Regions from separate parts of the Homo sapiens genome. Here region 1 is linked to region 2. The links come from fine-mapping of genetic effects on gene expression. A gene starts in region 2. The other region holds a variant in brackets. All regions are shown on one strand. Distances are between the middles of the regions.

Region 1 (14,505 bases), 46 kb after region 2:
CTTCTCCGCATTGCCCAGTTCCCTCCGGCCAGTGTTCCCAGGTGTTTCACAAACACCTTTTCCTTAAGCCTGTTGGCGACATTGAACAGGAGGGAGGGAGTTTTGTCACCTCGCATGTGCCCCTGCCTTGGGATCCAGCATTCCCACATGACAGCTGTGCTCCCTGCGGCTGACACGGGAGGCTTTTTGTTGAGGTGAGGCTTCCCCCTTGTATTTGAATTGGCTGTGAGGTGCTCTAAGGCGCCGAGTGTCATTTAAAATCAGAGGCACCTCGCAGCCGAAAGCACTGCTGCCCGGCGTCATGGCCCAGCCTTGGGAGAACTTTCTTCAGCCTCAAAACATTGCTCTGAGTCCTGTTAAGTTGTGTAGTTTTGTATTTTCAAAACAACTTTTTGAATGACAATAGTAACCATACATACTTCAAACGGTTTTAGGAAAGTTTGCAGGTTTAATGAAATGAAAACTGTACCCAGTGATAATATATACTAAGGATTATTTAAAGTGTTTTATGTCACTTTAAATAATCACAAAATCCTTGGTTTTATGTCACACTTCCTGTTGTCAGTACCGGTCCTGCTTGGAAGGAAGCCTCAGTGGCTGGGCTTGGCTTGTTGTGGCGTCGCCTCGCCCTGTTAGCCTCGTGCCAGAGCCTGTCCGGCCCCCTGGACTCGGGACAGTGCACAGAGCCCCACAGACCAGCCCCAGGCCGTCCTCCTGACCTCGGGCTTTTTACCATTTCACACTTCCGGTTTTTATAATGTCAAAAAGACTTTAAAAAGAGGTTAAAGCCGTCTTTTTCCAAAGACTTCTTATTTTTAAAAGTCAGATTTTTTTTTCCTGAAAGCTCCCATCACAATATTTGGGAACGTGGCACGGACTTCTGTGCTGTGGGGAGCGGGGCTTTTTTCCCTGCCTTTCTTGAAAATCATCCACAGCCACTCACCACTCCCTGTTTTTTTTGTTTGTTTGTTTGTTTTTGCATTTTTGACTTAAGACCTTGACCAGAGATCAGATTTAATGTTGCCTTCCTTTTATTTGCTAACTTCGTGGCCCAGTAGAGCTCTGTGGGAATGCCCGTTTAAGGCCCCTTTAGTTATGTGAGATACCTTTTCTTCCTCAAGGTAAGTGAATTATTCATTGCAGAAACTGTCATGAACTCGAGTGACGTGTTTAATATTGGCGCATGTGAAATAATCTTTCACAGTTTTTTTCAGAGAGTAACTGTGTGCCTGGGCACTGCACCCAGGGCCGCAGCCTTTGGCGTTAGGGAAGCACACACAGTGTGGCCCGAGCCCACGGGGCCCACACTGCCGAGCAGACAGTACATGCGATGCCTTGTTTCCTTAACTGAATTAGTATTTTGGTGGACTTCACATTTATAGTAAGTTTTATAATAGATTTTATAATCTTCAGTTTTCAAAAATCACTTTATTTATAATTTTTTCAGGAGATAAATCTCCCCCTAAACTTGAACCATCAGATGCATTACCTCTTCCTTCAAACTCGGAGACTAATTCAGAACCACCAACCCTCAAACCAGTAGAACTCAACCCAGAGCAGAGTAAACTTTTCAAAAGAGTCACATTTGATAATGAATCACATAGCGCTTGCACTCAGAGCGCACTGGTAAGCGGACGCCCTCCAGAGCCCACCCGCGCCAGTAGTGGCGATGTGCCGGCGGCGGCGGCCTCCGCGGTGGCGGAGCCAGCAAGCGATGTAAACAGACGCACTTCTGTTCTCTTCTGCAAATCGAAAAGTGTAAGCCCCCCAAAGTCTGCCAAGAACACTGAAACCCAGCCAACTTCTCCTCAGCTAGGGACCAAAACCTTTTTGTCTGTAGTCCTTCCGAGGTTGGAGACTCTTCTGCAGCCAAGGAAAAGGTCGCGGAGCACATGCGGAGACTCCGAGGTGGAGGAGGAGTCCCCAGGAAAGCGCCTGGACGCAGGTAAATGCCGCGGGCGGCCCTGAGAGGCGCCCTTGCCGACCAGTGCCTGGAGCGTCCTTCAGGATCATTGGTGTGACGGGGGGGGGGGGGTGTCCAGCTTCTGTTTTTGCAGCATTCTCTTAATTTCCAGAGAAGACAACAGTGCAGTGTTTTCTTTGAAAAGCCTTGAGTTGCGGGTCTGAGGCCGGCGCCTTCGTGGGGGGCCTGTTTGCCACGAGAGATTGTGCAACCTTGCTGGGCTGCCCTGGGCCAGGGGTCGATGGTCCTTGGTCCTGTCTTCTGCCACATACTTCCTCTCTGATTTTTTTTTAAGAGAGTCTTGCTTTGTCACCCAGGCTGGAGTGAGTGGCTCACTGCAGCCTCCAACTCCTGGGCTCAGGTGATCCTCCTGCCTCAGCCTCTTGTGTAGCTGGGACTACAGGTGCACACCACCACTCCCAGCTAATTTGAAAATTTTTGGTAGAGATGGGGGTCTCGCTGTGTTGTCCCGGCTGGTCTTGAACTCCTGGCCTCTGACTCCCAAAGTGTTGGGATTAGATGTGTGAGCCGCTGCACCTGGCCCCTTCTGATCTTTAAAAAAGTACTGAGAATGAATTCAGGTGTAGTTTTAATTGGTCATCTTGACTTTGCTGTGCACATCTGGATAAGCTGGTGACTGGCCGCTCCCAGCACTTGTGGGAGCTCGACTCTGCAACCCTCAGTCAGGTCTCCTTGCAGCCCCACAGACCTAGGACCTGGGGTTGAGCCTGGCCCTTCCCTGGACCTCTGAGAGGACCTGCCCCTGTGGTAAATGCAGTACTTTGCAGTTGATTTCAGCAACATTTACTCATTGTTTTATGTGGCCCTCTTAGCCACATATGTGATGAGGTATTAGGACCTGCTGAAATAGCACTGGAAAGCGCTTCTCATCTCTTGCTGCGCTTTTGTAACTGAACTCTGTTGAATTCCTCGGTGAGGGTGTTGCCGTGTGTGTGCTGTGCTGGGAGCACTTTGAGGAGGCCGCTGTGTTCCTGCAGCCTCTGCTCCCCGCCCCTCAGAGGAAGCTGAGGAGTTTGTCCTTTAAAGAGGAGCAGCTGTCATCGGTTTGCTTCTTCGGTACTGGCTGCGCTTCTGGAGGTGCCGGCTCAGGTTGCCAGCGACTCTTTTCTGGAAGCGTGTCTGGAGCATGTTTGTCATTTTGGTTTTTGTCCCGAGTCAAGGCTTGGTTCCCGTCTGTCCTGTCTGCCTGTTATACCTAGATAAGGAGATGCGCATTTTCTCCTGGCTGTGCTGGTGTGCCGTGGTGCCTCGTGCACTTGAGCAGTGAGAGAGGGTGGGGCTGGGTGGGTGTTGCTTATTTCCCAGAGTGGCAGCAAGTGAGTCCTGTGTCATGGAGCCTCACCAGGCCGGGTGCAGATGGAAGGCTGTGGTGGGCAAGACCTGCCCAGGCCACTCCCTCACATCTTGTCCCTGTTCCTTCTGCTGGTCTCTGGCCTGAAGCGTCCGGGGAGGGGAGTGAGACCAGGCACTGTCAAAGGTCTTTGTGCAGAAGGAGGCTCACTTCCTACCCTTGCCAGCAAGCAGGTCATGCGTCTTGTTGCCAAAGTAATTTCTGGTAAATTTCATTTTGATTTGTATGAAAATTTTGCACGTAACTGAATGTGTAGAAATTTTCTACCCATGTCCTTTTACTTTGATGGATTGATGTTAAATTGGCATTTTAAAATAATTTGAAAAAGCTTTTTTGCTTTCTAAGTAATAGGAAGCTATTGAAATGTTTCACAAGATACCAATAAGAATAGATGTCCTTGACTCAGGACTGGGGGATGTGTCTTAACCACGTTGGTCTTTCTTAGCCACCTTTGGTGAAAGACTCTGACCTGGTTTTCCAAGCACCCCGGAAATTCTGTGATGAATCGGGTCAGGGTGCTGTGCACTGGGTACTAGAGGTTGGGTCAGTGTAATTGTGGGCGTCCCCTCTGCATGCAGAACTTGGAGTTCGGCTGACGCTCCACTTCCTCGGGGTTTCACGTCTGTCGGCGGCAGAGGTATGGGGCTGCGTGCGTGGAGGCCCTGCCGGCCGTGGGGCTGGGGTTTGAGGCGGCCTCCCGTCGACACTCAGCAGGATGCTCACGTGGTGGTTTCCACCAGGTGGCCCCACCTGACCGGGCCCTGCCCCAGCTGTGGGCTCCCACTGTGGACAGTTTTGCCGGCTGGCGGCCACGTCCTCAGCAACCTCTCAGGCTCGTTCATCAGATGTCCCTTGTAGAAGAGCACGTGTCCCCTCCGGGCCACTGTCTTACATTGGAGTGGAGTGTTTTGCGGGCTTCCCGTGGTGACGGTGGTGTAGAGCAGTCTTACTGCAGACCTTCAGTGAGCGTGGCCCATGGTGGCTTTTGAGAATCATGGTGCCCTCTGATCCTGACTGAAGTGGAGATTTCTGCTCTCTCATTTCCGAGTGACAGTGGATTTCCGTGGAGGTGCGGTGAGTTCCTGAGCTCTCTCCTGAGCAGCCGGGAGCCTCAGCAGCATTAAGACCAGGCCCTCGGGAGTGGGAGGCATTCCACTGCTGTGGCCGAGGCGCCCGGGGAAGGGCTGGGCGTGCTCTGAATGGTGCCAGTCCCGCCATCCGCCCTCGCTTTGGTTTCACCGGAACCTTCTGGTGCTCTGCACATGGGGGATTTCTTGCCCAGAGCTGCAGTTCTTCGCAGTCTTAGGACAGGAATTATCCGGAACCTTCTGATGTTTTCCATACATGCATCTGTGTGCTCTGAACTTTAGGGAGTTATCTGGCATTTTCCAGCACACGCACAATTCTGAGTTAGGCTGAACAGGGTCGCTGGTCCTGAGGCGACGCACTCACTGTGGGCCTCCTGCCCGTGTCGCCCGCGGGCCGGCTGTGCTGTGCGCCAGGCTTCTGTTCCTGCGATGGCCCAGCCCCAGAGTCTGGCCCTGACTCGTGGCTTCCTTCCTCCGTGACTGCACGCTCACCAGCAGTGAACCGTCACCTGAAGCGGCCTTCCACTCGCCGCCGTTGCGGAGACCCCTGCTGCGAGTCTCTGTGTGCACGTGCTGGGGCGTGTGAGAGCGTGGGGGTGTCTTTGTCTACTCGCCGCCGTTGCGGAGACCCCTGCCGCGAGTCTCCCTGTGCACGTGCTGGGGCGTGAGAGCGCGGGGGTGTCTTTGTCCACTCACCGCCGTTGCGGAGACCCCTGCTGCGAGTCTCTGTGTGCATGTGCTGGGGCTTGAGAGTGTGGGGATGTCTTTGTCCACTCGCTGCCGTTGCGGAGACCCCTGTTGCGAGTCTCCATGTGCACGTGCTGGGGCGTGAGAGCGCGGGGGTGTCTTCAGTGTCCTTCGGCTGTTCAGGGAGGAGGCTGAGCTGTCCTGCCCTTTCATTCAGACTAAATGGCTTTTTCACTGTTTTCCAGGTTCTCACTTTAACCACTAATGTGCTGGGTAGTTCACTCTTTGGACCCTAATCATTTTCTCTTACCTCAACTTGGACTGGAGTTCTGCTAAGCGGCCGTTTTGGAATGCACAAAGATCACTGCATCTTGCCTTTCACTTAATTCTTGCGGATCACATTGGAATCATCAGCTCAAACATCCTCTAGACAAAATCACAAACAGCAGCCCTGGAGGAGCTCTCCCCCACCCCAGCCCACCCCCTCTGTAAGTCAGAGCCCGGCAGTGGGAATGGTGCTGGCGCCCGGTGCACGCCTGGAGCTGGCGGGATGTCGTGGCACCTCAGCCTTCCCTCTGGACAGTCACGAAGGACGCAGAGGAGAGCCCGGCACCGACTGGGAGCCTGCTGCAGCTGACGACACAGTGGACAGCATTCTGAGGCTGTCCTGAGCATGTGCGGAGCCGTCCCATAGTGACTGGTGGTTTGGGTGTGACGGCCATGCCCAGGCGCGTTGTGCTGTGTCTGTGCCATGGGGTATGGAGGAACTTGGCTCGGCACTGTCTGAGGATGTGGCATGGACAGTGCGTGCTCACTCACTCGCTAGCATCTTCTGTATTTCTGGGTTTTCTACCTGATTTCCTTCTCCCCTTACTTCCCCTTCCTCTGTTTTTTCCCCACAATGCCCAGTGGATTCTTGAGCAGTGCTGCTGTTTGTCTCTTGCTGGTCACCACGCTGAGTGCCCCTGCGGCCAACTGAGAAG[T/A]CCTGCTCGTGGGGTGGGGCATCTGTGCGTGGGATCTTGTGCAGGCGTCTGTCCTGGGCCTTGGGTCTGTCTCTGACCATCCCAGCTGCATTGTCATGGAGCTGGGTCCCAGCAAGAGCAGGTCTCGTGCAGGCGTCTGGCCTGGGCCTTGGTTCTGTCTCTGACCATCCCAGCTGCATTGTCACGGAGCGAGTCCCAGCACGATGGGCCTTGGGTCTGTCTCTGACCGTCCCAGCTGCATTGTCATGGAGCAGGTCCCAGCAAGATGGGCTTTGGGTCTGTCTCTGACTGTCCCCAGCGGCATTGTCACAGAGCAAGTCTTGTGCAGGCATCTGGCCTGGGCCTTGGGTCTGTCTCTGACCATCCCAGCTGCATTGTCGCGGAGCGGGTCCCAGCACGATGGGCCTTGGGTCTGTCTCTGACCGTCCCAGCTGCATTGTCATGGAGCAGGTCCCAGCAAGATGGGCTTTGGGTCTGTCTCTGACTGTCCCCAGCGGCATTGTCACAGAGCAAGTCTTGTGCAGGCATCTGGCCTGGGCCTTGGGTCTGTCTCTGACCATCCCAGCTGCATTGTCGCGGAGTGGGTCCCAGCAAGAGCAGGTCTCGTGCAGGCGTCTGGCCTGGGCCTTGGTTCTGTCTCTGACCATCCCAGCTGCATTGTCACGGAGCGAGTCCCAGCACGATGGGCCTTGGGTCTGTCTCTGACCGTCCCAGCTGCATTGTCATGGAGCAGGTCCCAGCAAGATGGGCCTTGGGTCTGTCTCTGACTGTCCCCAGCGGCATTGTCACAGAGCAAGTCTTGTGCAGGCATCTGGCCTGGGCCTTGGGTCTGTCTCTGACCATCCCAGCTGCATTGTCGCGGAGTGGGTCCCAGCAAGATGGGCCTTGGGTCTGTTTCTGACCATCCCCGGCTGCATTGTCACGGAGCAGGTCCCAGCAAGAGCAGGTCTCGTGCAGGCGTCTGGCCTGGGCCTTGGTTCTGTCTCTGACCATCCCAGCTGCATTGTCACGGAGCGGGTCCCAGCAACATGGGCCTTGGGTCTGTCTCTGACCGTCCCCGGCTGCATTGTCACGGAGCAGGTCCCAGCAAGAGCAGGTCTCGTGCAGGCGTCTGGCCTGGGCCTTGGGTCTGTCTCTGACCGTCCCAGCTGCATTGTCACGGAGCGGGTCCCAGCAACATAGGCCTTGGGTCTGTCTCTGACCGTCCCCGGCTGCATTGTCACGGAGCAAGTCTTGTGCAGGCATCTGGCCTGGGCCTTGGGTCTGTCTCGGACCGTCCCGGCTGCATTGTCACGGAGCAGGTCCCAGCAACATGGGCCTTGGGTCGGTCTCTGACCGTCCCCGGCTGCATTGTCACGGAGCAGGTCCCAGCAAGAGCAGGGTGCTGTTGGAATCTTCTTCCGTGTGTGTTTTTGTTGAGAGGTTGAAAAATGCACCAAAACTGCTCTTCTTTTAACGATGGTAAAAGTGAAACTGAAAACAGGAGATAGTGGGCTCTCCTTTGTCACTGCGTGGGGCCCTCAGGGCTCTGGTCTTCAGGGTGCAGGCTCAGCCCACCTGCTTCATACGGCCAAGCTTCCCATGAGCCGGAGAAGCCGAGGTGGCAGCTTGGGTGCCAGCGGCAGGGGCGGGCAGGGGCGGGCTTGTATCCCGTGTTGTGGGGTTGCGTTCCCATGGCTCCGTGCCCTCAGGTGTCTCGGCAGCCACTGATCAGGGCCTGGTGTTCTTACACCTGTGGCCTGGAGGATTTGTGGTGTCCACATGGGTTGGGGGCTGGGAGCCTGAGACCAGAGGAGACTACGGCCCATCAGTCAGACCTGCAGGCCTCCGCCTCCCCAGGTGGGCCCTGGGGCTTCTCTTCCCTGTGGGGAGGGGCGGTGTCTCAGCCGCTGTGGCCTTCAGTCTCTCAGAAGACCCTTTGGGGACCTCCCGGGACAGTTTCAGGTGTGCTGTGGACGTACCTGGTGACGGGCAGGCTTCCGGGGACTGCGCTTGGCTGGGCTGTGGGACACCTTTGCGCCATCTCCTTTGGGGGCAGAGAGGGACATTTCTGTGTTCAGTCTTTGGCCTCCTAGGAGGTCACTGGGAAGGCCCTTGAGGGTGGGTGGACCCTGGCCGCTGTGGGAATTCCGTGCAGCTCCTGTGTTGATGGGGCAGCGGCTCTTTCCTGGCAGCCGCCGCCTCTTTTAACGTATTTCTCACAGTCACCAGCTTTACTTTCAGCGTTAAAAAAAAACCTCGTGCTGAAAAAGTTGCTGAAAGTTGCCCCTTGCTATTTACATGATTTAGAGGCTTGGGCTCGGCCTCAGTGCCTGCTGTTTGCAAATGCCTCATGGACCGGGCACCCATCTCTGCAGACCTTAGGCCCTGGGTTCCCCACGTTGGGCCCCACCTCAAGGCTGGCCTGGGCTTCAGAATGTTCTGGGCTGAGGTCCTTGCAGGGGTGCTGAGGTGCGGGTCATGGTGGACATCTCCCAGCTGGCTGGAAGAGCCTCCCAGGGCGGGAGTTGGCAGGGCCGAGATTGAGAGATCTCAGAACCATAGCTGTCTTAGATTATTTTCTGGTGGTCCAGGTGGAGGCTGGGAGGGTCCGGGCAGCGCAGGCCACCTTGCAGCTCCCCCGAGGTTCTGGGGACTCCAGGCGGTGGCTGCAGAGCCTCCCGGGATGTGTCTGTGTCCTGGTCTGGCTTCTTGGCTTCCTGGGTGACCCCGCACTGCCGCAGCCCCCAGACCGCCTGTTAGCAAGCCTTGCAGCTGTCCCACCCCCGCCAGGCCTCCTGCTGGGTGGTGTCTCGGTTGGGCTGGGTTTGTCTGTGCTGCCCACGTCTTCCCGGGTGCTGTCACATTTTCATGGGTGACACGCAGAACCTCTGTGTGTTCTTGCGTCATACGCGCACTCACTGAATGCTTAGGAAAATTAAGAGGGGCATTTTATCATTCTCCTCTTTCTGAGAATTAAGGACTTGCCTTGTGTTTTAATCCCCTTCCTGGCCCCACTCCATGCACACGGAGCCGGGGCCGTCGTGGCTGCTGAGTGGTCTGTGCATGGCTTGGCTGTGTTGGTGCTGGCACAGCTGCGGGTGATCTCGTGCTAGGGCCCTCAGGCTGGCACCTCTGGGCAGTCTTGTGAAGGCCGCACTGGTCATCGTCTTCCCCCAAGTGGCCGTTGCTCGGCCAACCAGTAACTACTAAAAGCCTCCCCACCCAGGCCCTGGGCTGCGTCTGTTCAGCCTGGAGCAGGCTCACCCTGCACCTGGGGTCTGGAGTGTGCTGGGGGCCGGGCTGTGGGGTGTGGGTCGCCAGGCTCGTGGCTGCTCTCTGGAGACGGGTCACACGCGTTGGCAGACCCCTCTCCGGGCCTGTGGGCTGAATGCTGGCAGGGGTGCTGGGCTCCGTCCGTCCACTGCTGATGCGAGCTGGGTGGGCTTCCCTTGCCTTCACCCACTCAGGTTGGAGTAGGGATGGAGTCGCTGCTCCTGAGGGGTTCTCGGGGGCCAGGACGGGACTTTTAATTCCCTCTTGAGACATCTTCGGGGCCTGAGTGTGCAGGGTCTGAGCCCACTCTGTGATGAGTATGGGGAGCATGTGGAGCCCCAGGGCAGCTCAGCGTGTGGCTCAAGGCCTTCTCCTGTAGGTTTTTAAATTTATTTGTTCCCTTGCCAGAAATGAGTATGACACCCCCAACTGGCCACAGTTCCTGCCTTAAAATGACCGAGGTTAAAATGAGAAACACAGAGCTTCCCTTGGAGGTCACGGTACATTCCAGTCCAGGAGAGACGGAGCCGGTGTCTGACTTGAGTCTGTGGAGGGCAGCAGTGCACCCGCCCAATCTGTGCATTCCCTTCTGAGCTTGATTTAGCCCCTCTGTTTCAGTCAGTCATGCTCATTGAGAACAGACAGCAAGTGTATGAAGCGGGTGGAGGCTGATTCAGCCCCTGTATTGAAAAGTCGGTCGTGCTCATTGAGAACAGACGGGAAGCGTACGAAGCGGGTGGAAAATCCCGCAGTCCAGCCATTCCCTTCAAAACATGCCTCCCAGCCACTCAGGAGGCTGAGGCAGGAGGATCACTTGAGCCCAGGAGGTCAAGGTTGCAGTGAGCCATGGAGTCCATTGCACTCCATCCTTGGTGACAGAGTGAGACATCGTTTCCAAAAAAATTCTACAGAAATGCTCTATTTACAAATTTACATAATTTCCTTTGGAAATAGATTTAAAAATTTTTTAAGGATGAGGTAGGTAGGCAGGAAAACGGGGTTCTTTTTGGATAAAAAAATTCACATGGCCGGGTGTCATGGCTCATGCCTGTAATCCCAGCACTTTGGGAGGCCGAGGCAGGCGGATCACGAGGTCAGGAGATTGAGACCATCCTGGCTAACACGGTGAAACTCCGTCTCTACTAAAAATACAAAAAATTAGCCAGGCATGGTGGCGGGCGCCTGTAGTCCCAGCTACTCGGGAGGCTGAGGCAGGAGAATGGCGTGAACCCGGGAGGTGGAGCTTGCAGTGAGCCAAGATCGTGCCACTGCACTCCAGCCTGGGCGACAGAGTGAGACTCCGCCTCAAAAAAGAAAAAAAAAATCACACACCCCTTTAGCTCTGACACCCAGAGGGCCCCCAGCAGGAACATCATCCCCCCGTTGTGACTCCCATGGGGGACCTCATCGGGGGGCCTTGGGCAGATGTGTTGTTTCCCGTTGACTGACAAAGTCAGGATTTTTAGGGGGAAAATACTGAGATTTGCCTTATTTTTTAAACATTGAGATGATGGAATTGTGAGTGGTGTTTTGTTTAGCTGTGTACAGTACTTGCAGCTTCATGGTGAGTGAGGCCAGACACACTCAGACACGGCGATGGCCCCGGATTTTGTGTTTTAAAGTGTTTCGTCAGCATTTTTGACTTCATGTTAACACTTGTCTTTTGAACCAAGGTTTTTTCTTTTTAAAACCTGATTTCCTATTCCCTGGAGCTCTGCTCCTGTGAACATGTTTTTGTGTCTTTGGTGGCCCCTTCGGCCTGGTGAAGTTTCCGTTCAAACGCGGCCGGTGCCCACGTGGACAGGCCGCCCCCGTGTTTGCACTCACAGGTTGCACATCTGCCCCCATGGCAGGCTCACGGCATCCTTTCTTTGCCTTCACAGAGCCTGTCTAAAGACCCGGGCTTGTCAAGAGGAGCATCTTCATGGTGCTCAGCAAACTACTACGATCGGAGCCGACTGCAGTTTGTTAAGTTGATTTCATTTAACGAGTAACTTTGGTGTCTGCTTACTGTAAGGACTATGCTCGGGAACTTGGGAGTGAAAAGGAAGATGCTGTCTTACCTGTCTGTGAAACGTGCTTTGTAAGATGTGTTCCAAGTGTAACGTCGTTGAGTCATGCTTCAGTGTGCCCTGGTTGTGCTGAGCTCAGGGCCTGCCCGCCTGTGTTCCAGGTCTCACCAACGGCTTTGGGGGTGCGAGGAGCGAGCAGGAGCCGGGCGGCGGCCTGGGGAGGAAGGCCACACCCCGACGACGCTGTGCCTCCGAGTCCAGCATCTCCTCCAGCAACAGCCCGCTCTGCGACTCGAGGTGGGCACCGCGGCCCTGCGCTTCCCACCACGCAGCTCCCAGCACCGCCCGCCCCGCCTGGCTGTCCTGGAAGCCGGGACATTCCAGCTCCCATCTTAGTGTTCTCTGAAAAATTCTGGCCTGGGATTCATGTGTGCTCTGCCCTTGTGGACAGTTTCCCATGCTGCATATTAATCTGCTTTATAGAATTCAAGCAGAAGTAGGAAAAACACTGCGTGAAATAGGAACACAATTTTAGAATCTGCAATGAAGTTTTACACTTGATCTTTACCTCCCAGAATCTGGCAATGAGCACAGCCCTGCCTGTCTGCCCTGTGAAGGCCACTTTGGCCTCCTGAGTCCCCCCTGCCACAGGTTCACTCCCTCCAGACCTGCGCACCCACAGGCCCGTCTGGCCGCGGGGGTGTCAGGCAGGATGCGTGGCCAGCTTGGTGGCGGACAGCTCACGGGACGAAGCCCGAGTGAGGCTGAAGGCAGGGGCGGGGCGCCTGACTCCCTCTGCTCTTCCTCCCGAAGCTTTAATGCGCCCAAATGTGGGCGGGGCAAACCGGCTCTTGTGCGACGGCACACGCTGGAGGACCGCAGTGAGCTGATCTCCTGCATCGAGAATGGGAACTACGCCAAGGCGGCCAGGATCGCAGCCGGTGAGTCGCCCGGACCTGCCTCCATGGCTCTCCACACCTCCTGGTTAGCGTCTTAGGGCTCGACTGCTGGGGACTGGACTCCGGCTCAGGGAGCATGGTGCCCTGTGTGGAGCCCCACCCTGGCCAACCTCCCGGGGAAGGGTTCATCACACACCGAGGGGCTCTGGGCTGTGGCCCTGCCGGGGTGCCTGCGGAGGTGGCGCCTCCTCCATCCTGCCTTCGTTTCCCTGTGGAACGTCCAGCTCTGTGTGGCTGCTGGTTGCCAGGCACTGTCAAGGCTGTCTGGGGTTGTTTAGGTTCAGTGGTCATTTGCAGCTGCACAGGGGACTGACTGCAGGGTGGGTGCCCTCAACTTCAGGCCCCTGGGGGAGGGGGAGGCCCCAGGGTTTGGGGTCGCACAGCCCTCACTGTGGAAGGCAGCCATGCTGTGAGGGGGCATCAGGACGGAGATCCCCCAGGTGGGAGGGACAGCAGGGAGCTGGTCTGGCGGAGGGGGAGCCAGGACTTTGGTTTCCCATTTGGGGTGTCAGTTGTGTAAATGAGGCAGGAGCATGCTGGGAGCCCCGTCCTTGCGGCAAGGAGGGCTCAGAAGGGACTGTGCTGGGCACCTGGAGTTGGAGCCTTGTAGCCTGGAGGGCAGGAGCTTCCCTGGGTCCGTGGGAGGCTGGTGGCCCCAGGTGGGCTGCAGGGACAGTGGGGATGCAAGGGCCTGGACCCCACAGGGGAGGCAGTGGTGCTGCCGGGGTGGCTGAGAAAGGCCTGGGAGCTGGGCTGTGCTCGGGGGACCCACCCTGTTGCTGCACCTTTTGTGGGGGGGCGGGGCGTGCCCCGTGTCCTGCTGACGCCTGTGTCCTGCTGACGCCCCTCTCCGCAGAAGTCGGCCAGAGCAGCATGTGGATCTCCACTGATGCCGCCGCCTCGGTGCTGGAGCCTCTGAAGGTGGTGTGGGCCAAGTGCAGCGGCTACCCCTCCTACCCGGCACTGGTGAGTACGGCTCTCGTGGCGCCTGCGGGTCCAGAGGAGGCTCACACAGCTGCGGGGCGGGGGTGGTCCGAGGAGGCTCACGGCGGTGGTCCAAGGAGGTTCCACAGCTGGCGGGGGGGCGGGGTTGGTCAGAGGAGGTTCACACAGCTGGAAGGGGCAGGGGTGGTTCGGCGAGGGGGGCGTGGGGGTGGTCTGAGGAGGCTCACACAGCTGGGGTGGGGAGGCGGGGGGGGGTGCCAGTGACAGGTGGGGTTGTTTATGGGTGTGAGCCTCACAATGACCTCAGCGGGTCCTTCTCGTGCAGATCATCGACCCCAAGATGCCCCGTGTGCCTGGCCACCACAACGGCGTCACCATCCCGGCCCCACCCCTGGACGTGCTGAAGATTGGGGAGCACATGCAGACCAAGTCTGATGAGAAGCTGTTCCTCGTTCTCTTTTTTGATAATAAGAGAAGTTGGTGAGTTGAGAGGCCTTAGACTCCGGGGACCGGCTGGGGTGGTTGGGGGCCGTGGGCTCGGTGACCTGAGTGTCCCTGTGGTGAGCAGCGTCTTTGTCTGCTGGGCCCTGGCACAGCTAAAGTCGGAGGTGAGTGCTCCGCTGTTTGCCTGGTGGAGAAGGGCACTGCCCAGCCCCCTCGCCGGGACTGTGGGACGGGCACTGAGCACCGGGTCTGTCTCTGCCCGATGGCTTCCTCTCCCTCTCGCCTGAGCCCCATTGGTCTGGACTGTCTCTTCCCTACTCCTTACCCATGTGTCCGCTCCAGTGTTGGGGGTCCCTCTGCTGTGCTCCCGGACCCCTGTACTGCAGGACATGGCCCCTGCCCGGGCCTGGCCTCTGGCCCTGTTCTTAGAGCCTTCTGTCCCAGCATCATCCAGCTCTGCTCAGACATCCACCCCATCACAGGAGGCTCCCCCTGTGCCCTGAGCTGCTTTTCCCCAGAGCGTCTGGGACCCTCATGTGCCAGGGTTTAGACCCCAAGATCCCTCTGTGCAGGACACGCTGGCAGCACATGCCTCTGGGAGGAGCTGTGGCCCCGGCTGTGCCCTGCGCACGTGGCCCGGGCAGGTGCTTCCTGGTTCCCCGTGGAGCTGGCTGCACTTGGGACCTGGCGCAGGGGCTCGGGGCCACCTGCCTATGGTGTGCCTGGAGCAGGACTGGCAGCACAGGCATCCCTACCGTCTTTCTCTTCCTTGCCTCGACCTCTGCCTCTTTGGCCAC
Region 2 (14,505 bases):
GGTGCCTGTAGTCCCAGCTACTTGGGAGGCTGAGGCAGGAGAATGGCATGAACCTGGGAGGTGGAGTTTGCTGTGAGCTGAGATCGCGCCACTGCACTCCAGCCTGGGTGACAGAGCGAGACTCCGTCTTAAAAAAAAAAAAAGTTAAAAACATGACTCATACAACTCTAAAGTGAAGACGTGTCAAAGATTTATTTTAATCATTAATGAGGAAACCAGCATGATGGTGAGGCTGGTTCAAAAGATTGGAGAGAAGGAAGTATTTGTAGTGACTTAAAAAAGTTTGAGTAATTCTGCTTATTTAGATTTTTAAAAAAACTGGTTAATGTTCTACAGGGCCATAAACCGCAACCTTTTCTTTTTTTCTTTTCTTTTTTTTTTGAGATGGAGTCTTGTTCTGTCGCCCGGGCTGGAGTGCAATAGCTTGATCTCAGCTCACTGCAACCTCCGCCTCCCAGGTTCAAGCAATTCTCCTGCCTCAGCCTCCTGAGTAGCTGGGATTACAGGCGCCCACCACCACGCCCGGCTGATTTTTGTATTTTTAGTAGAGACAAGGGTTCACCATGTTGGCCAGGCTGGTCTCGAACTCCTGACCTCAGGTGATCCTCCCACCTTGGCCTCCCAAAGTGCTGGGATTACAGGCGTGAGCCACTGCGCCCAGTCAAACTGCAACCTTTTTTACTGTAATCTTTTCCACTGGACAGAAATAATTTCTATCACTCACTACTGGGCAAAATTTATTTGCATTGCTGTCAGAGAGGAATAATTTTACTTAGCCATCTATCTTCAACAAATTAAAGTCTACCCTTGCTGAGTTGTAAAATATCGTAATCAATAGTATATAGCAAGTTAAGCAGGCGCACACTCCAGAGGATCCGAAAATCTGCCTGGCAGGCTTGCTCAGGAACATAGCCTGCCACTGAATGGACACACTCATTTTGGGGTGTCTAATCCTTAATCTGGGACATTTTTATTAGCTCCCTCTTGGGATGATAAATAATCTCCGAAGGTTATTCTTGACCACAGAAAGCTAGTCTTGCATTCTGACCTAATTCATCTACACAGGTGCTGCAAGAAGTGGTAATTACCACGCACGAGTGTCCTTGTTAGGTGACACATGTAAACCAGATGGCGTTATGCAATGACCAAGCCGGAAAATCAACTTCTGTCTGGACGTGTCATCATAAGGAATGTAGGACTGAGCCTACATCACACCTGAGATTTTTTGTTTTTTAATTTCTCTTATTTGCTCTTCTGTTCCTAGGCCAGGAAGCCGAACCAAATCCACCTCCCTCAGGTGTGCCCGCGGGACCTGTGTGTGTGCAAGTTTCTATCTTCCAGAAGGTTCCAGTGTCTGCCATGGCTCTTGGCCTGCCAGGAAGTATCCTTCTTACTACTTGTGAGGCTGAGGCTTTGTGTGCCAGAGTACAGGTGCCCGGCCAGTATGGGTCTGAGGGTTGTGTGGGCATTGGTTCAGCACACAAGCCACAACCCTTGTTCCTTAAAGGTGGGCGTGTTGTGGAAGCACAGGAAAGTTATTCTCAAATATGACACCCATGTAAGGCCTGGGCTCCACTATTAATTTGTCTGATTATATCCTGGTGACAAGGAGGACAAATTTCTACTGCAACAATGCAAATTACTACGTTTTTATTAAAAGTAAATGTCAGTAAAACTATTTTTCCTGAATTCTGAAGTGAGAAAAACACCATTTAAAGAACGTTTTAATGTTTGTGAAAGGATAGTCTCCTAAAGTAGATTGTTGCAGATACCGGGTAAAAATAAAAATTAAATAAATTAAAGGTGAGATAGATCAAAGAAGAAGGGTTTTGTCTTATTCCTGCCAGAAACAGAATATCAGAAACAACATGAGCATCCTCCTCCTTGCCTTTTCTTGGGCTGTGCTTTCAGCCTGCAGATATAACCATTCTGGAGAGCAGTGATGCCCCCAGAACCGCATTTTTGGCTGGTGCAAAATGGGGGGCAGTGGTTGTGTCTGGGGCCAAGTTTCTGTCCTGTATAGCCTAGAGATGGTTATGTAGCGGGGGACTGAGCTACTAAGTGAAGGCATAGATAGTTATGTAGAAACAGAGGAGGGTAGAATCAACTCCATGCTAGATTGTAACTGGAGGTACAGGTATCAGTATGAACTCAAGGTTTGCTAAGAGGTATCAGAAAAGATATGGGTGTGTGTGTGTGTGTGTGTGTGTGTGTGTGTGTGTGTGTGTGTGTGTTTGTACATACTTATTTCCTAGCTCTGTCTGCTGAGTGTAAATGGAATCATATTCTGTAATCTTTTGAGATTTCTTTCTTCCATTTAAAATTATGTGTTTGAGATTTGGCCGTGTTGGTGGTGGAATTCATTCATTTCTGTTGCTGTGTGCTATTCCATTGCGTGGATACACCTCACTTTGTCCATTTTACCGTCCTTTGATATTTAAGATTTCTCCCAGTATTTGCTATTAAAAACAGCGTTAAAATAAAAAAAAAAAAACACCAAAAACAGTGTTGCTCTGAACATTCATGCACATGCTTCCTGATGAACAAGTTTCTTTTTTTCTTTTCTTTTTTTTTTTTTTTTTTTAGATGGAGTCTTGCTCTGTTGCCCAGGCTGGAGTGCAGTGGCGCAATCTCTGCTCACTGCAAACTCTGCCTCCTGGGTTCACACCATTCTCCTGCCTCAGCCTCCTGGCTAATTTTTTGTATTTTTAGTAGAGATGGGGTTTCACCGTGTTAGCCAGGATGGTCTCAATCTCCTGACCTCATGATCTGCCTGCCTCAGCCTCCCAAACTGCTGGGATTACAGGCGTGAGCCACGGCGCCCGGCCCTGATGAACAGGTTTCTTAGGCACACACCCAGGCACGGAATGCACCTAGGAATACAAATTGACTTAACCCTACAGCCGGGAATGGGTATGCACACTGGGGGAGCTTGCATCTTCTCAAAGTGGCCACAACAACTTCTCCCATACAGCATGCTTCTCTTAAAATGTGATGATAACACATGTCCCAAGAGGTGGGGTCTGTATTCTCCCTAACTCTTGAATCTGGACAGGCTTGTCCCTATGGCAGAAGTGATGCGTGTGACTTCAGAAGCTAGGATGTGAAAAGTGATACAGGTCCCACCTGCTTCTCTTGAGACCCTTGCTCCTGCAGCATGGCTACTATTCCATGAGGATGTTCCCAAGGCCCTCAGCCCAGAGCCTGGATCAAGGTCCCAGCCACGTGAGTGCACCATCTTGGAAGTGGCTCCTCCAGCCCCTAGTGGAGGTGCCCCAGATAAGGATGCAGGAAGTAGTCTAGTTGTACCTGCTGAATCCTGCCCAAATAGCAGATGTGTGAACAAAAGGAATGACTGCTGTTTTGAGCTACAAAGTTTTGGGGGTGGTTTGTTTTGCAGCAAGAGGTAACTGATAAACATGTCCACTTTCACTGGGTAACGCCTTATGACCAAGATATTTACCAAATAATTGTCCCACTCGACATTCTGGCCAGCAGGGTATTGCTCTGCCATCTTGCCATCGCTGAGTATTGCCACATATGAACGCTGGTGCCTATTTGGTGTGTATTTTGTTTGCATTTCCAAATTTACTAGTAAGATGATTGGCCTTTCCATGTTCTCTGCAAGAAGCCTGATTATGACATGGGTTTCTTTGTTGATTTGGGTTTTGTGCATCATTTTGTTGGCTTGTTTGTCTCTTTCTAATGGATCTGAAGGGGTTCTCTATATATTCTAAATACTAATCATCTGCAAGGTGTACATATCTTTTAGTTTTTCATTCTTCAGTCTCTTTATGGTGCCTTTTGAGGAACAAACATATGATAATTTCCATCCTTTCATTTACGAAATGGAGTCTTGCTCTGTCACTCAGGCTGGAGTGCAGTGGGGCAATCTTGCCTCACTGCAACCTCAGCCTCCTGGGTTCAAGTGATTCTCCTGCCTCAGCCTCCTGAGTAGCTGGGATTACAGGCACGTGCCCCCATGCCTGGCTAATTTTTCTATTTTTAGTAGAGATGGGGTTTCACTATGTTGGTCAGGTCTTGAACTCCTGACCTCAGGTGATGCACCTGCCTCGGTCTCCCAAAGTGTTGGGATTACAGGCATGAGCCACTGTGCCTGGCCCCATCGTTTTATTTTTCATCTGTTATTTTTCAGGTGAATTTCTTGTAAGAATATTTCACCATATTTATATTCCATTCAGAGAGGTTGTCTTTTAATAGATGCATTTAATCCAATCACATTCCTCTGATTACTCAAATGTTTGAACTTAGTTCTGCCAACTCATATTATGTTCTGTATTTATCATGATTTTATCTTTTACTCATTCCTGTTTTTTTTTTGTTGTTGCTGCTGTCGTTTTTCATTTCGCTTTTTCCTCAGCTGTTCTGAAAGTGGTAAATTCTTTTTCCACCATTCTTGTGGAAACTTTCTGATAGTTAAAACTTTTTTTTTTTGTTTTTTTGAGATGGAGTTTTGCTCTTGTTGCCCAGGCTGGAGTGCAATGGCACCATCTCAGCTCACTGTAACCTCCACCTCCCAGTTTCAACCAATTCTCCTGCCTCAGCCTCCCAAGTAGTGGGATTACAGGCATGCGCCGCCACGCCCGGCTAATTTTTTTTTTTTTGTATTTTTAGTAGAGATGGGGTTTCTCCATGTTGATCAGGCTGGTCTTGAACTCCCGACCTCAGGTAGTCTGCCCGCCTCGGCCTCCCAAAGTGCTGGGATTACAGGTGTGAGCCACCATGCCCAGCTAAAATTTTTAACCTTTTTTTCTATCGATTCTAAAATCCTCGAACCAAACAATACAAGAGCTTTCGTGCACTTTCACTTCCTTCTGCGCCCCGCCTTACCATGTGTCATGTTGAGTTCATCCGGGATTTCTCTCAGGTTGATTTTCTTTTAACGGACCAGACTGATTTACTTGCTGGCATCCACGTCTTACTCTTGGGTCCACTTTTCACTTTGTTAAGGTATTTCTTCTAGTACTTTTACAGACTGCGTGTGTGGTAAATGTGGATGTTAACCGGCGGTGAAGACACCTTTATTTTGCTGTCTCACTGGAACGCTAGTTTCACTGTGTATGAGTTACGGTTCAATTCTCTTAGTATTTTGGCAACCCCTCCTCTGTAGGATGAGTCTGAATTCTAAAGAAGATCCTCTCCGAAGGCCTTCCTGAGTATCCCTGTGACATGCCTACGTTCGAGGCTTTGTTCTTCACTCCTCTGAGCATCACCTGCATTGTCTGAGAGGCCACTGTCCCCGTCTCCTCTTCTGTGAAGGGTTTCGTGTCTTTTCATCTTCTCTTTCATGAGACTGTGTCTTACTTTTGCTCTGTGTTGTGGAGAACCTCCAGCTTGGTTTCCATCTGGCTTCCCTGAGGTGGAGGAGAGAAGCGTTCGGGCTCAGCTTGCTTGTTTGGCCACAGGTAAACAGACATCTGTAGAATGGAGGTGACACGAAGCTCCTGGGTCTGGTGCAGAAGAGGTCAGGGCCCCAGTGGCCTGTACCCCCTAAGCTCAAGGGTGTGTCTGCAGGGAGTCCTAGATCAGGACTGACCACTGGGGCCTTGGCTGGGGTCCTACCTGCCCTTGAGTCGTCACGTCACAACCCACACACTGGGTGCCATGGGCATGAGGACTGGCCAGGAAAAGGCCTGTGGGGCCTGGCCCCTATCAGGGACACTTGGGCGAACAAGGCCACCCCACTCCCAATAAGGTGTTTGGTGCAGTGCCCCGAGCAGTGGGGCCGCTCGGCTGCCCCCGTGGGGACGGTCTGTCCCAGGGTGGACAGCTGCTCTTCCTGAGGGGCCTGCCTGGATGCCACAGGCTGTGCTGCTGGAACCCAGGGATTCCACAGCACCATCGTCCTGATCACAAATTCTCAAGGAAACCAAGGAGCTCCTGCCTCACCTTAAAACATTTGGGATTTAATCTTGGAGTGAAAATTGTTATGACCCCACTGAATTTTAGAGTTTACACAAAAGGCCAAAGTGAAGGCAGAGACTCAGGCCTCTCAACTCCCACCCGCAGGGGCCTTTTCTTGCAACCTTAAAGGGCATCTGCTTCACGCCGGCCTCGGCAGGGCCCTCACACTGGCAGGACTACTTGCACACCGGGCCTGACACTCACTAGGGGAGGCTCCCCAGCCCGGCTGCACCACCCACCTCTACCTAGTCGCGTGTCCCGGCCAGTGCCCTTTCCACTCCCACCCAGTGCCCCCGCAGGGCCCCCTCTGTCCTCTTAGGGACCTCCACTCCCGGACCAATAGCCTCCTGCCTCAGGGCCCCCCACTCATGGGCCAATCGCCCCCTGCCTCAGGCCTCCCCCCACTCGTGGGCCAATCGCCCCCTGCCTCAGGCCCCCACCAACTCGTGGGCCAATCGCCCCCTGCCTCAGGGCCCCCCATTCCTGGGCCAATGGCCTTCTGCCTCAGGGACTCCCACTCTCAGCTGGTCCCCCCCGCCTCAGGGACCCCCACTCCTGGCCGTTCCCCCGTCAGGGCCCCCGACTGGCGGCTGCTCCCCCATCCTGCCTCGGGGCCCCCCACTCCCGGGCCAATGTCCTTCTGCCTCAGGTACCCCCACTCCCGGCCCGTCCCCCCGCCTGTGGGCCCCCCACTCCAGGCCGGTGGTAGCCCCTGCCTCAGAGCCGCCCACTCCTGGGCCATCTCCTGCCTCAGCGACCCCACTCCTGGGCCAATGCCCTTCTGCCTCAGGGACCCCCACTCCCAGCCGGTACCCCCCTGCTTCAAAGCCCCCGACTCCCGGCTGCTCCCCACCTGCCTCGGGGCCCCCCACTCCTAGGCCTACGTCCCCCTGCCTCAGGGCCCCTCATTCTCCATCCTCCTGACCCCCTCAGGGACCTTCTGGCCCGGTCCTCCCTAACTCAAGGGCCCCCACTCTCCATCCTCCCGACCCCCCACTCCCAGCCCGGTCCCCGCCGCCTCAGGGCCCCCTTTGGCCCCCGCTCCTCGCGGCGCCCCCTCCCCCGCGCGCGGCCGAGGCAGCGGAGTCCGCGCGTCATGGCGGCGGCGGGCGGGGCGCGTCTCGCACGCAGCGCGCCGGGCGGAGCGCTCGCCGCATTGTTTGCTTCGCTGGGGAGCGAGCGAGCGACCCGGCCCTGGAGTCCGAGCCAGCCCCGCGTCCCGCGCCCGCCGCCCGCCGCCCGCTCCCGCGCCCGCGCCCGCGCCCGCCGGCCGGGCCCCCCGAGCCGGGCCTCCAGCTGGGCCCCGAGCCCGAGCCCGCGCCGCGCGAGCCGCTGCCCGAGAGTCCGCGGCCGCCGCTGCCGGGCCCGGAGCCGCCGCGGCCGAGAGGGGCCCGCGCCCAGGAGCGGCGGCGGGGCCCGGCCTGCGCGGCCGTTGGCGGAGGAGCCGCGGGCGCCATTAGCACCGCCTCGGCCGCGCCGGCCCCCGCGCCCGCCCGCTTGCCGGGCTCCCGCGGCCGCGGCGCCCCGAAGGTGAGTGGGCGGGGGCCTGGCCGGGGAGGCCTCCCCGCCGCCTCGCGGGCCGCCCGGCCGCCGCCGCCGCCTCGGCCCGGCCTCTCGGGGTTGTGGTGCCGACGCCATGTTTGGCGGCGGCGGCGGCGGCGGCGGCTCCGCATTGTCTGCGGGCCGGGAGCCCGGGATGCCGGGGAGGCCGGGCGGGGAGACCGGGGAGGTCGGGCCGGGCGGCCGGGGAGACGGGCGGGAAGACGGGGAGGCCGGGCGGGGAGACCGGGTAGGTCAGGCCGGGGAGTCGAGGGAGGCCGAGTCGGGCTGTGGGTCTCGGCGGCCTGGGCCGCGGGCGCCTGCCCGGAGTCCGCGCTCGAGTCGGGTCGGGCCTCGGGCAGCCGCCGAGCCGGCCGGGCCGCCCCTTATGTAACAGACAGGCCCGCCGAGCTCTGCCAAGACGGGAACTCCCTGTGAGCAGGGACGCGCCCCGAGATCGCCCAGGAGCCGCGCGGCCTGCGGCGGCCGGGCTTGGGAACCGGCACCGCGGCCTCCCCGGGCGTTTGCAGGGAGACGCCTCGCGACGAACGCGAGGCTTCCCCGGGCCTTTTAAAACGAGTGACACGATTGAGGCGCAGTTCACGGGAAACGCGGCTCTTGTGAGCGGACGCGGGAGTTCTGAGAATCCGTAGCAGCGGGACCCCCTGCCCCGCGGGGTGCGGCCCCGTCTCCCCAGAAAGCGCGGCCGCCCGTGTCTGTTTTTGAGGGTCTGTCGCCAGGTGGTTGTGTAGTTAGTGGAATCGGCGGATGTTTTTGTTTGGCCGGCCCAGCGCCGTCCCGAGTGCTGTGTGCTGCACACAACTTCGCACAGCTCAGCGGCCGCGGCCCCTGTGGCCTTGACCGAGAGGCCCGGCGCGTGGCCGGCTTCTCCCTGGGCGGGCGGTGGGAAGATGGAAGCGGCCGTCTTGTGGGCAGCCTTCCCCGCCTGTGGCCCGCAGGGCTCTTCGATGTACTTAAGGGAATTATTCCTTGAGAAGCTACGTGTGTGCCCCCGCGGATCCCTCCCAGTGGAAATGCTTGTCCCAGTGGAAGGGCCAGGGACAGAACCGGCCCAGGGGGGAAGCGGTGAAGCAGAGGAGGTCGTGGGTCGCCCTGCCCTGCTGAGGGCCTACTTTCCCCGGGTCCCAGTTGCATGTTGAGGGTATGGAGCTGCTGTGGCCGTGAAGCCTTCGGTTCAGTTCTCCCCTTGTAGAAAGTGTTGCGATGAAGAGCTTCACGGCTCCCTGGGAGAGAGTGGGTTTCCAGGGGCTGCTTGTCGTTAGGGCGACTCAGGACTTTGCTGTCGAGGGGAAAATGACAGGTTCGTTTCTGATCTGGTGAGTAACCAACTGTTGCTTCTGCCCCACCTCAGTAATGACGCGTGTCGGCGTCCCGGGTGCACTAGGGTCGCTCTCTGCAGGCTGTGGTGTCACCTCTGCAGGGCTCACGGGGCCGGCTGGGGGGTGGCTGTGCTGACAGCTCCCCAGGAATCCAGGGTTGAGTGGGTACCTGGAGGCCCTGGAGATGCAGGGGGTCTGAGGTTTGGCCGACCACATTTTCTCTCCTATTCCTTTCTGTAGGTAATTGCAATCTAGTTTCAACATACAATGAGGATTTCTGTCTGATACAGAGAAAGATACCCAGTGTCTGGAGGGTCTGTCTTAAGAAGTGCTCTTGAAGTCTGCTGGGATTTCCTTTCGGGACTCACAGAGGGAAGCCTGCTCCCTGAGGGCTTTTTCTCAGGCCCAATAGATCAGGGTAAGGCTGCTGTGGGTGCCCCTGATCCCCCTGGGCCCCGAGGCCAGGCGTCCCTGACGTGGCAGGGCTAGATGCAGAGTATGCCTTGGGCTTCAGCTGAGAATATTTGTTTTGCGAGTCAGTCACTGAAAAATCATTTTGCTTCCTGTCAGTGAAGTGTGGCGCTTTGGAGGGAGGCACTGCCCAGCAGGCGGTGGTCTTCACAGGAGGTGTCCACACACCAGGCACCCTGGGGACAGCTAGGAATAGACGCAGTCCGTGGTGTTGGGACAGCAGAGGCCTCTGCCACGAGGAGCTGGAGGTATGGGAGGCAGCTCACTGGTTTTGCCTACCTCTGGAAAAGCAGATTCTCCTAAGCCTCTGTGGCCAAGTCTTCAGGCACCTGAGCCAGCGCTGGCGACCCTCCTGGTGAGGGTCTCTGCAAGCAGCGAGGGGTTCCTGGGGGTCACCCCTCGCTGTGGAGCCTGAGTGGAGCGTCTGCCTTCACGTGTGCCGGGGAGAACAGAGATTCCCTTTGGCGTCATGCATGTGTCTGGATTCTCTCAGAAAGGAGGAGGACGTGGAAGGAGGAGGACGTGGCCAGCACCATGGTCTCAGTGGGGCTTGAGGAGTGCCCCTGAGGGGAAGGGGCAGGTTGGCTCAGCCTGTGGTGGTTTCCATGGTGGTCACTGCCAAGGCTCTGCAGAAGCGGGGTTGGGGCCTCCCAGGGGCCAAGACTGTCCCCTCAGACCAGTACAGGGCTCCCCTGTTGGTCCCCTGTGCCGTGTTGTGCGTGTGGAGGGCCTGTCTATAGAGGATGGACAGGCTGTGATCTGTCTCCTACCCCTGGCCCCAGCAGGAATGCTGCAAGGACTGTGGTGACTCTGGGCTCATGGGAGTGCTCTCCTGGGAGTAGTGGGGAGGGGAAGAGTGGTTTAGGGGGAGCATCCGATAGGACCAGGTAGCCACTGAGCATGCCTGTCTGGTGGGCATAGCCTCTGTGCCTGGTGGGGTCCAGCCCTGTATGTGGACTTCCTGGGGGACCGCCTGCATGCTGGGAAAGTCCTGCAACTGTGGGCTCTGGGCCGGACCCCTCCTCCTTGGGGAGCGTTGCTGTGGTCTCCGCAGCCTGTTGGTGTGGTCTGAGAGGGGACTGGTGTGTGGTGGTAGGGACGCAGGTGCTCAGGAGGGCTCCTCAGGCTGCCTCTCTGCCTGTTACTGCTGCTCCCTCCCTGGTCCTGGGGACTCGCTCAGGCCTGGATGTGTGGTTTTGGACACCTTGGAAAGAGGTTAGCTGTGAGTTTTGCTTTGATTGGGCTTTGAGCTGCTGAGCTAGATCTGTCCAAGCATGCTTTTGTGGTTTTCTCGAGTCTTTGGTCACCCTGCGTAGAATTACCTTTACTTTTGCCTTCATTTTAGGTAATCATTACCAAATGAGGAGGAAAGGACGATGTCATCGAGGCTCTGCAGCGAGGCATCCTTCTTCCCCATGCAGTGTTAAACACTCCCCTACGCGAGAAACGCTGACCTACGCTCAAGCTCAAAGGATGGTAGAGATAGAAATTGAAGGGCGCTTGCACAGGATCAGTATTTTTGATCCCCTGGAGATCATATTGGAAGATGACCTCACTGCTCAAGAGATGAGTGAGTGCAACAGCAACAAGGAAAACAGCGAGCGGCCTCCTGTCTGCTTAAGAACTAAGCGTCACAAAAACAACAGAGTCAAAAAGAAAAACGAGGCCCTCCCCAGCGCCCACGGCACGCCGGCCTCGGCCAGTGCCCTCCCGGAGCCCAAGGTGCGCATCGTGGAGTACAGCCCTCCGTCCGCCCCCAGGAGGCCTCCTGTGTACTACAAGTTCATCGAGAAGTCGGCCGAGGAACTGGACAACGAGGTGGAGTATGACATGGACGAGGAGGACTATGCCTGGCTGGAGATCGTCAATGAGAAGCGCAAGGGCGACTGCGTCCCCGCCGTGTCGCAGAGCATGTTTGAGTTCCTGATGGACCGCTTCGAGAAGGAGTCGCACTGCGAGAACCAGAAGCAGGGCGAGCAGCAGTCTCTGATCGACGAGGACGCCGTGTGCTGCATCTGCATGGACGGGGAGTGTCAGAACAGCAACGTGATCCTCTTCTGCGACATGTGCAACCTGGCCGTGCACCAGGAGTGCTACGGGGTGCCCTACATCCCCGAGGGCCAGTGGCTCTGCCGCCACTGCCTGCAGTCGCGGGCCCGGCCCGCCGACTGTGTGCTGTGCCCCAACAAGGGTGGTGCCTTCAAAAAGACAGATGACGACCGCTGGGGTCACGTGGTGTGTGCCCTGTGGATCCCAGAGGTCGGCTTTGCCAACACGGTGTTCATCGAGCCCATCGATGGGGTGAGGAACATCCCTCCAGCCCGGTGGAAACTGACATGCTACCTCTGTAAGCAGAAGGGCGTGGGTGCCTGCATCCAGTGCCACAAAGCAAACTGCTACACAGCATTCCATGTGACGTGTGCCCAGAAGGCTGGCCTGTACATGAAAATGGAGCCCGTGAAGGAACTGACTGGCGGTGGCACCACCTTCTCCGTCAGAAAGACCGCTTACTGTGATGTCCACACGCCTCCAGGCTGCACCCGGAGGCCTCTGAATATTTACGGGGATGTCGAAATGAAAAATGGCGTCTGTCGAAAAGAGAGCTCGGTTAAAACGGTCAGGTCCACATCCAAGGTCAGGAAGAAGGCAAAAAAGGCTAAGAAAGCTCTGGCTGAGCCCTGCGCGGTCCTGCCGACCGTGTGCGCTCCTTATATTCCCCCGCAGAGGTAAGCGTGTCCAAGCATTGAGTCCACAAGGAGCCTGCAGTGTGGGACCCTGGGAGGACGTGGGCACAGCCTGCAGGGCCCGTGCTGTGTGGTCATTGCGTTTCTAGTTGGCGCAGCTTCCTAATATTCCCCTGAAGTGTGGTTCTGCTTGTTTACCACGTCTTTTTGGGGAATAGATGTTGTAAAAGATTTTAGTCTGTAGGCTTGGAATAATCTGTAGTTTTCTATGTTTTTTTTTTTGGAGACGGAGTTTTACTCTGTCGCCCAGGCTGGAGTATAGTGGCGCAATCTCAGCTCACTGCAACCCCCGCCTCCTGGGTTCAAGCAATTCTCCTGCCTCAGACTCCTGAGTAGCTGGGACTGCAGGCGTGCGCCACCATGCCCGACAAATTTTTGTATTTTTTAAGTAGAGACGGGGTTTCACCATGTTGGCTAGGCTGGTCTCAAACGCCTGACCTCAAGTGATCTGCCCGCCTTGGCTTCCCAAAGTGCTGGAATTACAGCACTTGCTCAGCCTTTTTTTTTTTTAAATAGGGTTTTGCTCTGTTGCCCAGGCTGGAGTGTAGTGGCACGATTTCAGCTCTCTGCAACCTCTGCTGCCAGGTTCCAGCAATTCTTGTGTCTCAGCCTCCTGAGTAGCTGGGACTACAGGCGTGTGCTCCCATGCCCAGCTAATTTTGTATTTTTAGTAGAGGCGGGGTTTCACCATGTTGCCCAGGGTGGTCTGGAACTCCTGAGCTCAGGCAGTCTGCCTGCCTCTGCATCCCAAAGTGCTAGGACTATAGGCGTGAGCCACCATGCCCAGCCGTGCGTGAAGATTTTTAAGAATTTCAGTGACTAAACTTTAAGAAGGAATGAAGCCCACGCAGGAACTCTGTATGACTTTCAACCCGAGGGGCTCTGGCCTGGGCTTCCCAGTGACTGCCGGCATCGGGACATCCACTGCTGTGGCCTTGGCCCCGTTTCCCGTGCTGTGCCCCCCACTTGCTGCAGATGCCCTGAGGAAAGGGTGGCCAAACAAGGGGAGGAGCTGTGAGCACAGATGGGGCCTGCCGGTCAACAGGGCGGGTAGAGCCAGCCTGGTGCTGAGCTTGCAGCTTGGCTGGGGGAGACGCCTAGAGCCCCAGTACCACACAGACCCTCCAGGACTGCCGGGGGTCAGTGAGCAGGACCCTCTGAGGTGTCAGACCTGCCCCACATGTGAGGGGAGGACAGCACAGGTGGGACGCATGCAGGCTGAGCTGCATCGGGCGGTGAGGCTGGGAGGTTGCAGTGAGCTAAGATTGTGCTACTGTACCGCAGCCTGCGTGACAGAGTGAAACTGTGTCTCAAAAAAAAAAAAAGAAGTTTTAAGTGATTTTTGTTAATATTACTCTACTTTACCAAAGTGAAGTCCAGTTTCTTTTCACAGAGCTGTAAATACTCAGATAATTAGTCAATTCAGACAGAATGAACAAAAAATGCTCATAATCCTTCCCATCCAGGGAAAACCCTGTCAAAACCAAGGTGTTTGTCTTTGTAAATTAATCTGACTTTGAAGAGATGGTTTTGCTTGGATTTCTACCTATGAGTCAAAAAGTCTAGGGTTTGTATTAAGAGCTTCTGTATAAGAGGTCTAAAAATTTCAGCTTTACTGAAATTGAAGCAAAATAAACAAAATGTGATCTAACAAAATGAAGAGCCAAAAGTCTGAAGTGCTCCCTTCCCTGGCCAGTACCAGATGATGACCTGCTCTGGGAGAGGCCGGGCCTGGCCGGGCCGCACGCTCTCTGTTCTTTGGCTCCTGATGTTGGGTAGGCAGGACTGAAGGAGGCAGTGTTTGCATGCAGGACATGGGGGCTGAAGTGGCCAGGGCTGATTGAGAAGAAAACTCGACCTAAATATTTGAAAGCATGTATTGGAGCTAAACCGCGTACTGTGTGGTTCTGTTCTTTTCCTAACTTGGGAATAAACTATTATTTCAGCTTCGAGTAGAGAGAGAGAAACAAACCTGGACGAGTGTTCCTGGCCGCGGTCTCTGCAGTCTGGGTTTCCCAGTCTCCAGGAGATGCTGGTGCTTCAGGCCACCTTGCCACCAGTGGAGGAGCTCCCAGTGCGCCTGGCCTGTTGGCACCATGGTGCTGGACCCACCTCTGGGGTGGTTGTGAGGGGCAGGCTCTCAATACAGTACTGACTGCTGCCTGAAACCGGGTTTACTGCCTTGCTGTGGTCTGAGAGGCAGCTGATCTGGCAGCCCTGTTCTTAGGCCCTGGGCACTACCCCTGGGTGCATGTAGGAGGCCTCAGCTGTGCATTTGAATTCTGTGTAGATGAGGGTGAAGCTTCTTATTTTTTATTTTATGTTTAGAGACAGGGTCTTGTTCTGTTGCCCACGTTGGAGTGCAGTGGCGTGATCATGGCTTACAGTAGCCTCAAACTCTTGGACTCAAGCGATCTTCCCGCCTCAGCCTCCTCCCAGCCTCAGCTGGGAATACAGGCACGAGCCACTGTGCCTGGCCCATGGTG

The links. PIP is the estimated chance that this variant, and not a neighbour inherited with it, causes the effect.
Region 1: its variant is fine-mapped to the expression of BRD1 in whole blood (INTERVAL, PIP 0.96).

The regions. Positions count from the first base shown.
Region 1 is chr22:49,774,830-49,789,334 of GRCh38, reverse strand. BRD1 (bromodomain containing 1) reads left to right here. Exons shown (of 13, transcript NM_001304808.3): 8 at 1,448-1,945; 9 at 11,522-11,657; 10 at 12,174-12,301; 11 at 13,176-13,285; 12 at 13,590-13,744. Among named protein-coding and RNA genes, the nearest start is that of BRD1, 46 kb to the left of the region's middle. The variant T/A (reference allele first, on the strand shown) is at 6,094.
Region 2 is chr22:49,820,447-49,834,951 of GRCh38, reverse strand. It overlaps BRD1 (bromodomain containing 1), which reads left to right and starts at 7,079. Exons shown (of 13, transcript NM_001304808.3): 1 at 7,079-7,455; 2 at 10,621-12,001. The coding sequence starts at 10,635. It overlaps LOC105377205 (a long non-coding RNA gene), which reads left to right. Exons shown (of 5, transcript NR_188597.1): 5 at 1,265-2,503. RefSeq lists silencers at 6,945-7,014, 7,745-7,914 and enhancers at 8,415-8,614, 9,824-10,403.